Linked DNA regions of Homo sapiens: region 1 is linked to region 2. Evidence: fine-mapped expression QTL. A gene starts in region 2. The other region holds a variant in brackets. All regions are shown on one strand. Distances are from middle to middle. Region 1 has its middle 200 kb from the start of ARAP2. Region 2 holds the start of ARAP2 (ArfGAP with RhoGAP domain, ankyrin repeat and PH domain 2).

Region 1 (2,917 bases), 200 kb after region 2:
TGGTAATATGATTTAAACATGTTTTGTTCACATATTTCTATCTAATGAAGTTATCTTCCTGTCCTAATGAGGTGGGTAACAATGTGTCTCACTGTCACTGTTTTGGAGATTTTGCTGAACTTGGTGAACTTGCTCTACTCTGGCCTGGACAGAAAAGAAAAGAAAAGCTTACACTTCTTGGTTTCCTTGTTCTGCCTTCCTATTGTGATGGGTGAGTGCTTTTGCTTAGGCTTGTAGGCCAGGGCTCTGGTTAGCTCTGCTGCCTGCTCCTCTTACATACAACTTTTGGGGATGATAGCCTTTAATTTTCTACAGCACTTCAAAATAGATTCTTTCTGTGGTCTGCATTAGAACTTTTTTTAACATCCATATAGGAATTTTATGCCCATTAAAATTCCTATATGCCAGGTGCAGTGGCTCACTGCACCTATAGGCCAGGTGCAGTGGCTCACAGCTGTAATCCCAATACTTTGGGAGACTGAAGTGGGAGGATTCCTTGAGCCCAGGAGCTTGAGACTGGCCAGGACAATATAGTGAGACCTTATCTGTACAAAAAACAACAATAAATAACAAAATTAGCCAGCCATTGTGGCATGAGCCTGTAGTCCCAGATACTCAAGAGGCTGAGTATTGTTGTTTCAGTCCAGGAAGTGGAGCTGCAGTGAGCTGTGACTGCACCACTGTACTCCAGCCTGGGTGACAGAGCAAGACCCTGTCTCAAAACAGAGAGAGAGAGAGAATACTGGTCAGGAGCTCACTTACCTATAGGCTGGTACAATGAATATATTTTGCAATATATGCCTAGTTTACAATGACCTGGTTAATTATTCCCTCCTCTACTCAGGAAAAGACAACATAGAGTAGAAATTAACAAAGGAATCTCTGGAGTGAGGCATTCTGAAATTTTACTGAAGCTCTAAAACTTAACAGCTATGGAAATGGGTAAGTTTCTCAATGCTTTGTATCTTAATTTCCTTATAGGTAAACTTCTCTGACAATTGTCCCCCTCTTATCCCCCTCTCTTACTTTATAAATTTTCCATTCATTTTGAGTTTTTTCTGTATTTATTTATTTATTTAATTTGATCATTGTCAATAATTGCATATCTTTTTGGGGTACAATGTGATGTTATGATGCATGTATATGTTTTAGAATGATCAAATCAGTCTAATTAGCATATCTATCACCTCACATATTTATACATTCCTTGTGGTGAGAACATTTAAAATCGATTCTTTTAACAATTTTGAAATATACAATACATTATTATGACCTATAGTTGCCATCCTGTGTAATTGATGACTAGAAGAATTTACTCTTCTTACCTAACTGAAACTTTGTACCATTTGTCTCACATTTCCTCTTTCCTCATTCTTTCCAACCCCCCAGCCTCTGATAACCACCATTCCACTCTGTATTTCTATGAATTCAACTTTTTTATATTCCACATGTAAGTAATATTACATGGTACTTATCTATCTGTGCCTAAGTTACTTCCCTGAGCATAATGCCCTCTAGATTATACATGATGTTGTAAAGGACAAAATTTCCTCCTTTTTAAAGGCTGAATGGTATTCCATTGTGAATATATACCATGTTTTTTTACCCACTTATCCACTGATGGATATTTAAATTGTTTCTATAGCTTGGCTACTGTGAATAATGCTGTGATGAATTTGGGAGTGCAGATAGCTCTTCAACATACTGATGTCAATTTATTTGGA[T/C]ATATACCCAGAACTGGGATTGCTGGATACCATGATAGTTTTGTTTATAGTTTTTTAAGGAAACTCCATACTGTTTTCCACAATGTCTGTATTAATTTCCATACCTACCTGCAATATATATTGTTTCCTTTCCTCTACACGCTCACCAACACATCTTTTTTATGATAGCCATTCTAACAGGTATGATGAGTTGAAAACTTGTTGTGGTTTTACTTTGTATTCCCCTGATGATTAGTGATGTTGAGCACTTTTTTTTAATATTATTGTTCGCCATTTCTATATCTTCTTTTGAGAAATGTCTATTCAGGTTCTTTGGTCATTTTTTTTTTAGCAGGGTTATTTCCTTGTTATTGAGTAGTTTGAGTTTGTTAAATATTTTGAATTTATCCCCTTATCAGATGCATAATTTGAAAATATTTTCCCCTGTTCTATAGATTGTCTCTTCATCCTGTTAATTGTTTACTTTGCTATACAAAACCTTTTTAGTTTTATCTAGTCTCATTTGTCTGTTCCATTTTTATTTTGTTGCCTGTGCTTTTGGGGTTTTATCCAAGAAATCATTGCCCAGACCAATGCCATGGAGCTTTTCTGCTATGTTTTCCTCTACAGTTTCAGGTCATATACTTAAGTTTTTAATCTCTTTTAAGTTGATTCTTATATATGGGGTGAGGTAAAGGTCCAGTTTCAGCAAGTGAATAGCCAATTATCACCAGCATACAAATATGTTATAATAGCTTCCATCTTAACCTAAAAAAGAAATGACAGAAAAACACAAACTCCCTCTCTTGACACCATATTCTACTGCTGCTACCTCCCAATATCTCAATAGCAAACCACTTTTAAAATCCTCTTTACAGTGTCTTGTTTACTTCCATTTTTCTCTTGAAGTTTCTCTAATCAGACCCATCACCACCAAAGAAACAAACTACTTCTAATCGAGATCATGAATGGCCTCTAGTTTGCCAAATAAATTGTCTAATTCTCATACCTTGGATAACTCATTTATTCAGTGGCCTTTGACATCGGTGGTTTATGATCACTCTTTCCACATCCTTTTTCACTTGGTAAACGGGACACTACATGCTAAATAAATGTAAACATAAACCACGAAATGTTCATTTGCTTATTCCTCTGAGTGCTTCTCTTCCATACTGGTGCGCATTTCCTGAGTTATGTCATCCAGAAGCATTACC
Region 2 (2,917 bases):
GTCTCTAGTAAGACAGAGCTGCTTCAGAGTCTCCCCAGGGAAAGACGGTGCTTTGGGCAGGTAGTTAGTGTGGGTGAAGGTGATGACTGAAGAATCCTAAGGGCCCAGGCTTGTGGGAAGCCTCTCTCTTTCCGCACTTCACCAATTATCTCATTTTCATAAGGTCTGCGCTTTCCTTAATTGCTTCACTTCCATCAACAGGAACAGGGGAAAGATAAATACATTTCACCTTTTAATGAAGAGAATTTCAGGTAGTCTGTGGGAGATGTTTATAAAAAAAAAAAAAAAAGCTGGTAGGGGGCAGTGTCTCACGCCTGTAATCCCAGCACTTTGGGAGGCCGAGGCAGGTGGATCACTTGAGGTCAGGAGTTTGAGACCAGCCTGGGCAACAAGGCGAAACTCCGTCTATACCAAAAATACAAAAAAAATTACCTTGGCTGATGGTGCGCGCCTGTAATCCCAGCTACCTGGGAGGCTGACGTGGGAGGATAGCTTGGACCCAGAGGCGGAGGCGCAATGAGCTGAGATTGCCTCACTACACTCCAGCCTGGGTGACAAAGTGAGACCCTGTCTAAAAAAAAAAAAAAAAAGTAGTTGGTCTGTGAACTCACTTGCAAATAACTGGATTTTACGGACGCTTAGATATTTGGAGGTCCACAAGGGTTCTTTGGGATCCCCTATTTTCCTTCGCTGCCTCCTTTGTCAGAGTCCAACTCAAAGGGGAAATGCCCCTCTGGGATCTAACCGCCACAGGTGCAAGAAGGAGCAAATTTACATAGAAGCAGCCTGGGGAAAATAGTGCCCTAGATGAGTCTTCAGTTTGGGAAACGCTGAGCTAACACTTTAAGTACTTGGAAGAGTAATACTAATAATCAGTCGTGGCGAGGTTCCGCCCATTTGACATTCAACCCCCCATGAGTGCGCACAGACAAACCCACTGGCCAGGAGGAGCCAACACAAGGTCCTGGGCATCTCCGTCCCGGGAAGGTGGGTAATGCCCCTGTCGCTCTGGGCTCCAGGGCGCGCCCCCGCAGCTTCCCCAGCGGGGTCTGACGCCTCCGGGCCGAGGTGCGCCAGGTGGCGAGGGTGCCAGGCGCGGCCAAGTCGCGGCGGTCTGAGTCAGTCACCCAACTATGCTGCGGAACCAGGGAGGCCGGCTGGGCCGCCCCCGCCGTTGAGCTCCGGCTTCCCCCGCGCGGGGCGCCTGCTCCCCGCCCCCGCGGGCGGAGAGGAAGCGGCGGCCGAGGCGAGGCGCGGGAGCACCTGAGCAAGGCGCGGGCGCCGGGCTCGGCGTTTCCGGAGCTGAGCGCGGGTCCGCGGCCCGCGCTCCCCGCCTCCAGGTGCGGCGGCCGCGACACGCCGGCCCCACTAACAGCGCCGCCCGCGCGGCCGCCGCCAGGCAGCAGAGGCGACTGCGGACAGCCGGCGGGGACCGGGAAAGAGGAGGCCTGGCGCCTCCGGCAGAGGGGCGAGGACCGAGCGCCCAAGGCTGGGAGAGACGCCGGCGCTGAGCTTCCCAGCGCCGCCTCACCTCGCTTTTCGAACTCCGCGACCCGAGCGCAAGGCGAGTACCCGGGGCCTCGGGAAGGCTGGGCCGGGATGGCCCACGCGGGGGTGGGAGGACCCTGTCTGGAGGGGCTGGGGCTTTTCGACACTTCACCGGGTAAATTTCCTCAGCGCAAAGTGCTCGGCTCTGGTGTCCGCCCCTTGGATTTCGCTCCCGCGTGTGGGCGTCTGAAAGGAAACCAGAAGCCGGTAAGTGATCCAAGAACTCCACTTCTGGGATTTGACCCGGGAGGGTGAGGATCCGGATAGACAGCTGGACACTCCCTCCATTCCTCTCCCCTACCTTTAAATAAGAAGAAGCTGTAGTGAGTTTCAGGCACCAAGTTATTTACTCGGTAGAGATCATGAATTTGCCCGGGTGTCTGTGCTGCCCCGCACCCTGCTTGTTAACCACGTTAAGACGACTGGCCTGTTAATTAACTTTAATTACGATCATTTGGCTTCCACCTGCCTGAACCCGATACCTTACACGGGAACCTGTATGATGTGAGTTTACCAGATTGATCTTTCTTGTTTACTTTTGGAGACAGTTCTCTTGGGAGAAGTGGTGTCCATCCTATTTAATAAAGTAAGTTTTACTTTATCTAATTCTGGCTTGTTTTCTTAAACACCTCCTACCTTGAGGTGATCTGGAGTTATTTTGATTTGGGGAAAGGGTTCGTGGATTATATAGCCTTTGATAATTAGAGGAAAACACAAGAAAATAAGCTAATTTGTGTGGAATAATGACATCTTAGGGTGTTGTAAGTAGGTATCCTGATAGCAAATTCTTTTTTTTTTTTTTTTTTTTTTTGCAAGCTTGTCCTTGAAGTAGGCTGTTCAGTAGAATACAGCCTTCGGTTTAAAAAAAATCAAGAAGTGTATTGAAAATAAGCTATTTTTAAAAGTACATTTAATAGGATGTCATTGTTATTACTCATAATAGTATTGTACTTACAAGCTCAGTATTGATTTATCTGCACTTAAGCACTCTACACCCCCACAGGCCCATGGAACTTTGCCCGTAAGTAATTGGAAGATAAAAAGCAAGCTAACTTTTTTTAAGGAAAAAAAGAGAAATACCTTTAAACTCTTTTTTTTTTAACTCTTATTTATGACTTCCATACACTTACAGGAGAAATATTGAGAGAAAATACTCATGACATTTTTTGTCCAACAACGTTTAAAGAAGAAAAAAAAGTGGGTCATGGAACTAGGCTAGGGTTAAGTGCAAATATCTTCCTGGCTTCTTTCTAAACATATTTAACACATACACATTTAAGGTGGTTCCTAACACGAAGAGGGTTTTATATAGATTTGTCAGTACTCAAAGATTTATTTGAATTAAAATGTACCTAGAGGGTAAGTGAGA

The links. PIP is the estimated chance that this variant, and not a neighbour inherited with it, causes the effect. A credible set is the group of variants that fine-mapping cannot tell apart.
Region 1: its variant is the best candidate, but not a certain one, in a credible set for the expression of ARAP2 in whole blood (TOPMed, PIP 0.62).

What each region holds. Positions count from the first base shown.
Region 1 is chr4:36,044,004-36,046,920 of GRCh38, reverse strand. It overlaps a transcript of ARAP2 not described here. Among named protein-coding and RNA genes, the nearest start is that of ARAP2, 200 kb to the left of the region's middle. The variant T/C (reference allele first, on the strand shown) is at 1,725.
Region 2 is chr4:36,242,826-36,245,742 of GRCh38, reverse strand. ARAP2 (ArfGAP with RhoGAP domain, ankyrin repeat and PH domain 2) reads left to right here and starts at 1,229. Exons shown (of 33, transcript NM_015230.4): 1 at 1,229-1,564. LOC439933 (a long non-coding RNA gene) reads right to left here and starts at 1,627. Exons shown (of 5, transcript NR_122079.1): 1 at 1,532-1,627; 2 at 433-571. RefSeq lists a silencer at 854-1,433.